2 separate regions of the Homo sapiens genome follow, and region 1 is linked to region 2. The links come from fine-mapping of genetic effects on gene expression. Tissue or cell type: whole blood. Region 2 holds a variant in brackets; the other region holds the start of a gene. All regions are shown on one strand. Distances are from middle to middle. Region 1 holds the start of YWHAQ (tyrosine 3-monooxygenase/tryptophan 5-monooxygenase activation protein theta). Region 2 overlaps YWHAQ (tyrosine 3-monooxygenase/tryptophan 5-monooxygenase activation protein theta).

Region 1 (5,377 bases), 45 kb before region 2:
CAATCATGGCTCATGCCAGCCTCGACCTTCTGGCCTCAGGCGATCCTCCCATGTTCAGCCTCCCGGGTAGCTGGGACTACACGCATACGCCATCACACCCAGCTAATTTTTATGTTTTTTGTAGAGACAGGTTTTTGACATGTTGCCTACACTGGTCTGGAACTCTTGGGCTCAAGCAATCCACCCACCCCGACCTCCCAAAGTGTTGGGATTACAGACATGAGCCACTGTGCCCAGCTGGGATTATTTTTATAGATTACAGGTAGAGAGAATTGAGTTTCAGAGAAGATCAAGGTATCCAAGGTCAAATCACATATAAATAGCAGGGCTGAATTTAGGGTCTTCTGGCTCCATGTTAATGTGCTCCTTTTTGTTCCAGGAGCTTCTTCATACCAGGTAACTTAGAAAAAATAATAAGAACTTCATAAATAAAGTAATAATTTCTCAGTACTCCCTTTGCTAGCTGTCTGTTCCTTGCACTTCTTCCCAGTATGTTGGATGTGATGCTTAACAGGTTTCACATTTATTAGGGTGAAGCTCCTAGAAGACAGAGGCTGGTCTGATCCATCCTAGGATCTCTACAGCATCTAGCAGAGATCTGGGGAGACTTGGTGAGGCAGCCTCAGCAGTGGTTAAAAAGATGGGCTTTGGCACCCAAACTGCATGGGGTCCATATCCAAGGTTCTGCCGCTCTCTAGCTGTGTGGCCCTGTACGTCATGCTTGACCACCCTGTGCCTTAATTTCCTTGTCTGTGAAATAGAGATAGTGAGTATAATAACACCTACTTTGTAGTTGCATTAAGCAGATTGGATAAGTTAATTCTTGCAAAAGACTTAAAATAGTGCTTGACATATGCAATCACTCAACACAGGTTAGCTCTTTCTGTGTCCAGGGACTTCAAGTTCCCAGAGCCTTGTTTCTCTCCAACCCGAGTTCTTTCAGGCACAGAAGCCTTTAGCTATGTAGAGGGTCCTCTGAATCTTCCTAAAATGCAATTTTATACTGTGTTATTGGTTGGAAGCAGTTTTTACCCATGATTCCAGATGATTGCAACTAGATGAGTTGGTGTTCAATAAATATTTGATTGAATGAAAGCAGAAATTTCAGAGACTAAGGTACAGAAAGCAGCAAAAACTTGCCCAAGGTCACTGGGGGAGACCACAGCACAGCCTAGACTTTCTGACAAAGAATTTAGTGTGCTTGCTCCTTCTGGTAGTCCCTCTCTACCACAGAGGTTCCATCCCCTGACAATTTCCTCTCCTGGGTCTCTATCCCCCATCCACCTCCACTGGCTTCTCCCCTTGCCCGGGTTGCCTCTAATTTTGGTGAGCTTGAAATTCACTGGTCATACAGAAGGCATTTTATCTGACCTTCCACATGCAAATTCTTTCCATTGGGATTTCTCGGTGTCCAGCTCCACCCCAGCCCACAGGGCCATAAACACTCATGTGTCTGTAGCGGGGCCCCAGGGATTCCAGAAATAACAGCAGGGCCCTCCATTAGAAGGCTGGAACATAGTAAGGCATTTCTGCATTAAGACACAGGCCCTTTCCAATCCAGGCCGCTCCTGTCTGTCAAAGCACAAAGCAACCTTCACAAGTCAGGACAGGGAGGGGCAGTCAAGAGGGAGTCTGAATTTCTGGAAAGTCGGCACCTTCTCCTCCCATCTGTCTGCACTCTCAAATCTCCCATTCTAGAGATTCTCCGGATTTGCTCCAGTCTCCACTCAGAATGGGAAATTCTTTATGATCCATTCTCCTTAGACCTGCTGGAATCGGGATCATAGCAGCGTGAACCCAGAGGGCAATTCTCATCTTAAGATGGCACAGGGACCACGCGCCAGACGGGCAGGGCAGCCACCCTACCTGGATGGAGTTAGGGAACTGGGGAAGTGCAAGGAGAGACAGGAGTGGTTTAAGAGGAAAGGGAGCTGCCAGGGATGACCCTGAATGGGAGGGGCCTGGGGGAATCTTTCTCGCTTCAGCAGGGTGTTCCCCAGGAGGAGAAAATCAGAAATCAACATCCAGGGAGAGGATTTCAGCTTTTCAAGTGACCTCTCACAAATAATACCAGAAACAAAAGCGTGTGCACATGTGACAACGATGTGAAAAATGATGTATTTAGGTGCATAACCTGGAAAGCCTAAAAGATACATAAAAATTGCTTTTTTTTTGCGGGGAGAGATGTTATGGGCAGGGTTTTTTTTTGCGGGGGTGGGAAGGGGTAGTAATAGGTGTTTTCCTGCAAATTGTGCTTAATGTCATTTCTCATTTTAAAGAAAACCACAATACTTGGCATTGTCACAGAAACTCCCCTGGATCTTCTGGGACCTACCTTTTCACAAGGGAATTTTTTGTTTTAGGATGCCCATCTGAAAACTTGAATTTATCATGTAAATGCCATACTGAAGACACCGTCTCCAGAATCAATTCTTCTTTAATGGGGATGCGGTTTGCTTAATTCGGAGCCCTAATGGCAACGTCATTAAGGTCTGGGTTTAGTGTCTTGGGATCCAAACCTTTGTCACGGATAGAAAGGTGGAGGAAAGAAAGGCCCCCGTGCTCTAAAACAGCTGAATATGTCACCCTCCGAAGTCCAGCCTCGGCCAGAGCCCGTGAGATGCAATGCACCATCCGCAGCGGGAGACGCAGCCGCCGCCTAGGAGGTCGTGCGCGCCTCTGGGTCTCGTGCCGCACCCAGAAGTGCCGGGGTGGCGGGGAGGCTGAGGGGAGTTGGTAACGGCATCGCCATGGCAACAGTGACGTCCTTTTACCCTGGATCTAATTGGAGGAAACCCCGTGGCCGAAGCCGCAGCCTGCCGGCCAACCGAACTTCCCCGTACCGACCCACCCTCCTAGCCTCCGCGTTCCCTCCCGCTCCGCCCCCCTCGCCCCCTTCCGCGCGCTCGGTCCTCATTGGCCAGCGGCGCGCTGGGGGCGGGACTCTCGGGAGAAGCTCGGCGCATCATTGGGCGGTGGACCGCCCCTCGGCCCCGGGGTAGGCTGACACGGGAGGGTCCTCAGCTAAAGCCAAAAGCAGATCAAAGTGGTGGGACTCGCGTCGCGGCCGCGGAGACGTGAAGGTGAGCGCCTGGGTCGGCCCGCGGGCTTCCTCCGGCCGCGCTCGGATTGAGGGCCGGGCGGAGGTGCCGCCCTTGAGAGCAGCCGGTTGTCGATGCCGCTCCCCTCAGGGACGGCTCCGGGCGGGAAGGTGCGGGGCCAACGGTCGCTTCCATCTTGGGCCGGCCGGGCGGGGGTGGCGGGAGCGGCCGCGGCTCGGGCTCCCTGCGCGCGGGGCCTCCGCGCCGCCCCCGCCTCCTCCAGCCGCGGGCCGCGGCCTCCCCGGGTGCCCAGCGGGGGAGGGGGCGGGGGAGAGGGAAATTCAAGCGGCCGCGTGTGCGGGAGACAAAAGCGGGCGGCGGGCCGCATTGTCTGACGGCGCTCCCTCTCTGCTTTTTGTTCTCGCCTCGCCGCCCCGCCCCTCCGCAGCTCTCGAGGCTCCTCCCGCTGCGGGTCGGCGCTCGCCCTCGCTCTCCTCGCCCTCCGCCCCGGCCCCGGCCCCGCGCCCGCCATGGAGAAGACTGAGCTGATCCAGAAGGCCAAGCTGGCCGAGCAGGCCGAGCGCTACGACGACATGGCCACCTGCATGAAGGCAGTGACCGAGCAGGGCGCCGAGCTGTCCAACGAGGAGCGCAACCTGCTCTCCGTGGCCTACAAGAACGTGGTCGGGGGCCGCAGGTCCGCCTGGAGGGTCATCTCTAGCATCGAGCAGAAGACCGACACCTCCGACAAGAAGTTGCAGCTGATTAAGGACTATCGGGAGAAAGTGGAGTCCGAGCTGAGATCCATCTGCACCACGGTGCTGGTGAGTCCTCGGCGCGGGGAGCAGGGGAGGCCTTTTGTGAGATGCTTTTCATTGAGAGTTTCGCGGGCACGGAAACAAACGTGAGCCGGGGCTTGCCGGACTGTCTGCTGGGGTGGAGGGTTTTAGGTGAGCCCTGACTTCCCTACTGTGTCCCTCCGGTTGTTGAGACTCAAGAAGCCGCTTTTCCAAGGATAAGTCCTTTTTTTTCGCCCCAGATGCTGGGTAGCTACCAAACGATGGAACTTGGAAACATCCAAGTAGGTCTCTGCGAGACTGAAAGGCGTTTTTAAGTTTCTTGTGCGGGGAGACTGCGTCCTGAGATCTGTGAGCCCTTTAAATGTATTCAGTCGGTTCACAAGCTTCAGGCAGTTGAAAGAAGGCGCAGGCACCTTTTTGTTACAGACAATGTAGTAGGGATTTTTTCCCAAACCCAGTAATGGAAATTTACTTAGAAAATCTGAACAGATACTTTATTTTTCAAGTAAGAGTATCTGTTGTGCTCCCCCCCACCCCCCATAAACAGGAGAGGAGGGGAGTTCGGGAAATGTGAAAAGGACACAGCTGTATCTGAAGAACACAATGTCCTGGTAAATTTCAACATTTAATAACATTTCCTTGCTGTTGCACACCTGTGCTTAAACACTAGTGTTGAAGTGAATTCGTTTCCAGTGTGGAGCAGACAAGGAAAGCTTTCCAGGTTTTGAACTGTCCAGTCTTAGCAAGGACGATTGTTGGGTGGAGTAGGTGGCTGCTGTGATTCACCCTTATTAGTGAGAGAGAACATTTTTAGCTTTGTCATTCCATGGATCTTTTGATCCGTAGGATAAGTTTTTAAAACTGAAATACCAGCATTATATCCAGGAGTGTTTTTAAATGTTTCAGTGCTGCCAAGAGTCATTTCTATGAATAAAATGGGAAATAATCTCATATGGTTTGCCTTTTAAGTGTCACTTTTACAAGAGGCCTACTTATTTTTGATGTGTTTGTGCACATCATATTTTAGGTGGGCTTTGATAGACAAGCATACTAGACTGGGGATTTTTCAAAAGGGAATGGAAGAAATAATTTCTCCCTGGCCTCCTCCCCCACCCCCACCCCCCAAGCCGCCTTTCTTCATCTCATCAGAATGGTGGGGCAGGGAATATGTTCCCCACCCCTTGTTTAAAAAAAAAAAATCCACGAAACTTTTTTAACCTATCTATTTTTCTAATACGATGACAGGCGATCCGGACAAAATCATGGCTGATGGAAATAACTGGTAAAGAGGCAAAGAAAGTAATGCAGACAGTGTGTACTAAAGTGGAGAAAACTTAAGATTATTTACTTTATGAAGTCAAAACTTCGTTGTATTCTTCCGTGTGCTCTTAGCTTCCAGTCCCTGCTTGGCATTGAAGAAGCACTTGTAAAAGCTTTTTGGACTGAATTGCTCGTATTAAAAAATTTTGCCAACTTGAAAGTAGTGGTAGACTTCAACTTGAGTAACATATGGTAATGGCTGTTAACAGCATTATC
Region 2 (5,377 bases):
TATTATTATTATTTTTTGTAGAGACAGGGATAAGATCTCCCTGTGTTGCCCAGGCTGGTCTTGAACTCTTCAGGTTCAAGTGATCCCCCTGCCTCACCTTCCCAAAGTGTTGGGATTAGAGGCATGAGCCACTGCACCTGGCCATAAACAAGTTCTTAAATACCCAGTACACAATATTGTTTTTGTTTGTTTGTTTTTGACACAGAGTATCGTTCTGTTGCCCAAGCTGGAGTGCAGTGGTGTGATGTCGGCTCACTGCAACCTCAGCCTCCCAGGTTCAAGCGATTCTCATGCCTCAGCCTCCTGAGTAGCTGGGATTACAGATGCCCGCCATCACGCCTGGCTAATTTTTGTATTTTTAGTAGAGATGGGGTTTCGCCATGTTGGCTAGACTGGTCTTGAACTCCTGATCTCAAGTGATCCACCCACCTCGGCCTCCCAAAGTGCTGGGATTATAGGCGTGAGCCACCGCGCCTGGCCACGATAATGTTTTTTGTTAGCTACCATGATTTTAAAAGACCCATACAGAGAAAAAATCTTGGTTCTACCAAGAGCTAGTAGCATATGTTCAAGTTGTTAATGTACTGTGTACTGGATGGTTATTTTTAATATTGCACTTCTTATTTTTCGCTCTTCACAGAAACGATAGATAATTCCCAAGGAGCTTACCAAGAGGCATTTGATATAAGCAAGAAAGAGATGCAACCCACACACCCAATCCGCCTGGGGCTTGCTCTTAACTTTTCTGTATTTTACTATGAGATTCTTAATAACCCAGAGCTTGCCTGCACGCTGGCTAAAACGGTAAGATGTGTGTCCAGGAAATACGTACTTTAGCTACAGTTATTTGAGATACCAGGTATGTTAATTTATAGGTATTTTACTTGGATACCCAGGGATGATTTCTACTATATTTATTTTGAAATCTCCTCTTTTTCTTCCCATCATGATTACCTACTCCTACCCCTGACACCTTACTCTACCCTATGATTATAAGCAGTGATGTGCCTACAGAGCATACTGAGCAGAGTAATCAAAGAAGGATAAATGATGTTAAGAAGGAAACATAAAAGATTAGAAAGTCATGCCTGCCAGGTTTGGTTACTAGAATAGCTGTGCATCAGCCACATTCCTCAAAGTGGCTCAAAACGAGAGAATAAAGAGGACCCTGTAGAGATAAGTACTACTTAACTGGAAAGAAGTCTGTTAAGCATTGCTGCTGTTCCGTTGTCCTGTGAAAGAACCAAGACATGCTTGTTTACTAAGTGTATAGTTTTATAAAATTCCAGTCATACTCATAAGTTCTTAAACTGGGAGTGTGAGAGAATGGTTCTGTTGAGTTTGTTGATGGTAGAACATAAGGTGGGTGTTCACTTATTTTGTAAAAATGGTTTGTAATTGTAGAATAACCAGTTTTCGTCAATGCACATATTTTACCATGGATATTAATATTTATCAGGCTTTTGATGAGGCCATTGCTGAACTTGATACACTGAATGAAGACTCATACAAAGACAGCACCCTCATCATGCAGTTGCTTAGAGACAACCTAACAGTGAGTTGTTTACTCTTTTAATTTTATTTTCTTTTCAGAAACAAAAGTATTTATATTTTATTTTGGACTTCGTGTCTTTTAGGGAAGATACATACGAGCTGAAAGTATGAGATACGTGTTAGTATTTTATGGGACGAACATTATTTTGTAGGCAGGTTTTCAAGTTGAATAGGCATTTTATCAGACCTTCCTGAGAAGGTTCTAACATGATAGGAACTCAATATTAATATTACTATTTCATTGGGATGAAGATGTTGATAAATTATGTTAATAAAGAGCTTATCAAGTTTCAATATTTTGGGGCAAATCAGCTATAGCCAGTTAGGGACTATCTAAATATCTACGCTTTCTTAAAATCACAGGAAGTACCTTGTTCTAATAAAAGTTTACTTTGTGAATTGTGCATGATGTTCTACAAGCATTTAGGGAGTAAACCTATACCTAAACTTACTCCTTCTCTGCTTCTAGGCAAAAGCTTCTGTTTTGTTTGTCTTTTTCTCCCTGCTTCTTAGATAGGCAATTGATAAAGGAAGTAATCAAGAAAAAGTACAGCTTAAGCTTTACTTTAACATTCTTTTGTAGGTTCAAGTAAATTTGATAGGTAAAATCTTAGACTTCACAGAAGGAAAAAGAAGGGAACAAATCTTTTAATATAGATCTCGTCCTCCCAGCCCCCTAGTTTGGTGCTTTATCATTTACTAGATAGGATTTTTTAAATATTAGCACCATGTCTATTCAATTTTGCTGAATAGGGTAATTATGAATCCACTGAAAGGGGAACGAAGACCCTGCATTTCTAGCCATGAGAAGTGCCTGTGGTTGTGAGGGGACAATGGAAGATGATCAGCAAATAGTTCTACAGAGGAAGAGCAAATTAGGCAGTTATACCTCTTCCCAGATGTATACCTTGGAGCTAACTATCTTTTAATCGGTTTTGTTTTGTTATCTCTATTATGGAGACAGGTCTTTGGGGGATTTTGTTTTGTTTGTTTTTATTTAGTATC[T/G]TCATAATAATCTAAGGATTATGTAAGATTCTGGCTTTTCTGAAATTAACACTAATGTCTTGCTGTTGGTCTAATAAAGTGCAATTATAGTCAATAAATACTGACTTCTCTTCTTCACTTCATCTTCCTATCCTAAAATCAGAGAGATCCTGGAAGATCCACTTAGTTTTAACATTCTGTCTAATTCAAGAACCCTGTCTATACATGCACACATTGCTTCCCTGTAGCTTCCATCACCCACTTCTATTTAATTCTTGGAGAAACACAAAGTAAGTCTGCTTTTCCTATAGTTTAGCCCTTCACACACTTGAAAATTGTTAACCATGATTGTGGCTTTTTCCTCCCTGTGAAAATGTTTTGCTTTATTAGTCTGTAATAATAATGCAGTAGTGCTTTCAAGAAGAGCATTGGGCTGCTGGGAATAGAGACTATCACTTTGCTTATTCTGAAAGTAGAGTGCCTTTTTAAAAAAGTTTCTCTTTTTTTTTTTTTTTTTTGAGAAAGGATCTCACCCTGTTGCCTAGGCTGGAGTGCAGTGTCATAATCATGGATCACTCCAGCCTCAACCTCCTGGATTCAAGCAGTCCTCCTGCCTCAGCCTCCTGAGTAGTTAGGACTGTAGGCACACACCACCCCGTACCTGGCCAATTTTGTTTTTGAAATTTTTTGTAGACGTGGGATCTTGCTATGTTGTCCAGGCTGTTGAACTCCTGGCCTCATGCGATCTTCTCATCTTGGCCTCCCTACGTGCTGAGATTACAGGCGTGAGCCACTGTGCCTGGCCAAATGCTTTTTAAATAAAAAGGAAGCTATAAAACCATGCTCCAGTGGTATATGTATGTATGTATGTATGTCATTTTGTAAGTGCATAGTGAAAGGTCTGCAAGGATGTACTTTGGGAAGGTGATGGTCTTTGGGGTTTTGAGAGAGAACTTCAGTCTTAGTCAAGATCTCCATTGTTTGAGGAATTTACTACTCTTGTAGTTAATTTTGATATAACAATACTACTTAGTGTAATTGCCTAATCTAGAAATAGTAACTTAATATGATTCTTCTTTTTCTAGCTTTGGACATCAGACAGTGCAGGAGAAGAATGTGATGCGGCAGAAGGGGCTGAAAACTAAATCCATACAGGGTGTCATCCTTCTTTCCTTCAAGAAACCTTTTTACACATCTCCATTCCTTATTCCACTTGGATTTCCTATAGCAAAGAAACCCATTCATGTGTATGGAATCAACTGTTTATAGTCTTTTCACACTGCAGCTTTGGGAAAACTTCATTCCTTGATTTGTGTTTGTCTTGGCCTTCCTGGTGTGCAGTACTGCTGTAGAAAAGTATTAATAGCTTCATTTCATATAAACATAAGTAACTCCCAAACACTTATGTAGAGGACTAAAAATGTATCTGGTATTTAAGTAATCTGAACCAGTTCTGCAAGTGACTGTGTTTTGTATTACTGTGAAAATAAGAAAATGTAGTTAATTACAATTTAAAGAGTATTCCACATAACTTCTTAATTTCTACATTCCCTCCCTTACTCTTCGGGGGTTTCCTTTCAGTAAGCAACTTTTCCATGCTCTTAATGTATTCCTTTTTAGTAGGAATCCGGAAGTATTAGATTGAATGGAAAAGCACTTGCCATCTCTGTCTAGGGGTCACAAATTGAAATGGCTCCTGTATCACATACGGAGGTCTTGTGTATCTGTGGCAACAGGGAGTTTCCTTATTCACTCTTTATTTGCTGCTGTTTAAGTTGCCAACCTCCCCTCCCAATAAAAATTCACTTACACCTCCTGCCTTTGTAGTTCTGGTATTCACTTTACTATGTGATAGAAGTAGCATGTTGCTGCCAGAATACAAGCATTGCTTTTGGCAAATTAAAGTGCATGTCATTTCTTAATACACTAGAAAGGGGAAATAAATTAAAGTACACAAGTCCAAGTCTAAAACTTTAGTACTTTTCCATGCAGATTTGTGCACATGTGAGAGGGTGTCCAGTTTGTCTAGTGATTGTTATTTAGAGAGTTGGACCACTATTGTGTGTTGCTAATCATTGACTGTAGTCCCAAAAAAGCCTTGTGAAAATGTTATGCCCTATGTAACAGCAGAGTAACATAAAATAAAAGTACATTTTATAAACCATTTACTATGGCTTTGTAACAATTGCATACCCATATTTTAAGGGACAGGTGAATTTACTACTTTCTAAAGTTTATTGATACTTCCCTTTTATGTAAAATGTAGTAGTGATACCTATATTTCCACATTGTGCATTGTGACACACTTGTCTAGGGATGCCTGGAAGTGTATAAAATTGGACTGCATTTCTTAGAGTGTTTTACTATAGATCAGTCTCATGGGCCATCTCTTCCTCAGATGTAAATGATATCTGGTTAAGTGTTATATGGAATAAAGTGGACATTTTAAAACTAGCAAAGTTAATTATGTGATTGTGAGTGCCTTGGCTGTTATTAGAATTGTGCTTCAGTGGATATTCAAAAGGAATGTAAGAGTTCAGACACAGATACTCCTCAACTTAAAATGGGGCTACACCCTGATAAACCCATTGCAAGTTGAAAATACGAAGTCAAAACTGCACTGAATACACCTGACCTAATGAACATTATAGCTTAACCTATCCTACATTAAATGTGCCCAGAACACTTAGCCCTACAGTTGGGCAAAATCAAAGAACATGAAGCCTACTTTATACTAAAGCGTTGGATCTCTCAGGTAATTTGTTGAACACTGAAAGTGAAAACCATTGATTGTATAGGTACTTGAAGTATGCTTTCTACTGAATGCCTGTCATTTCCA

What was found.
Region 1: it holds the start of YWHAQ, and the variant in region 2 is fine-mapped to the expression of YWHAQ in whole blood (TOPMed, PIP above 0.99).

The regions. Positions count from the first base shown.
Region 1 is chr2:9,628,647-9,634,023 of GRCh38, reverse strand. YWHAQ (tyrosine 3-monooxygenase/tryptophan 5-monooxygenase activation protein theta) reads left to right here and starts at 3,027. Exons shown (of 6, transcript NM_006826.4): 1 at 3,027-3,083; 2 at 3,490-3,865. The coding sequence starts at 3,572. RefSeq lists silencers at 2,706-2,875, 2,926-3,025, 3,226-3,575 and enhancers at 3,696-3,795, 3,539-4,441.
Region 2 is chr2:9,583,592-9,588,968 of GRCh38, reverse strand. It overlaps YWHAQ (tyrosine 3-monooxygenase/tryptophan 5-monooxygenase activation protein theta), which reads left to right. Exons shown (of 6, transcript NM_006826.4): 4 at 641-804; 5 at 1,460-1,555; 6 at 3,624-5,002. The coding sequence ends at 3,683. Among named protein-coding and RNA genes, the nearest start is that of ADAM17, 30 kb to the right of the region's middle. The variant T/G (reference allele first, on the strand shown) is at 2,560.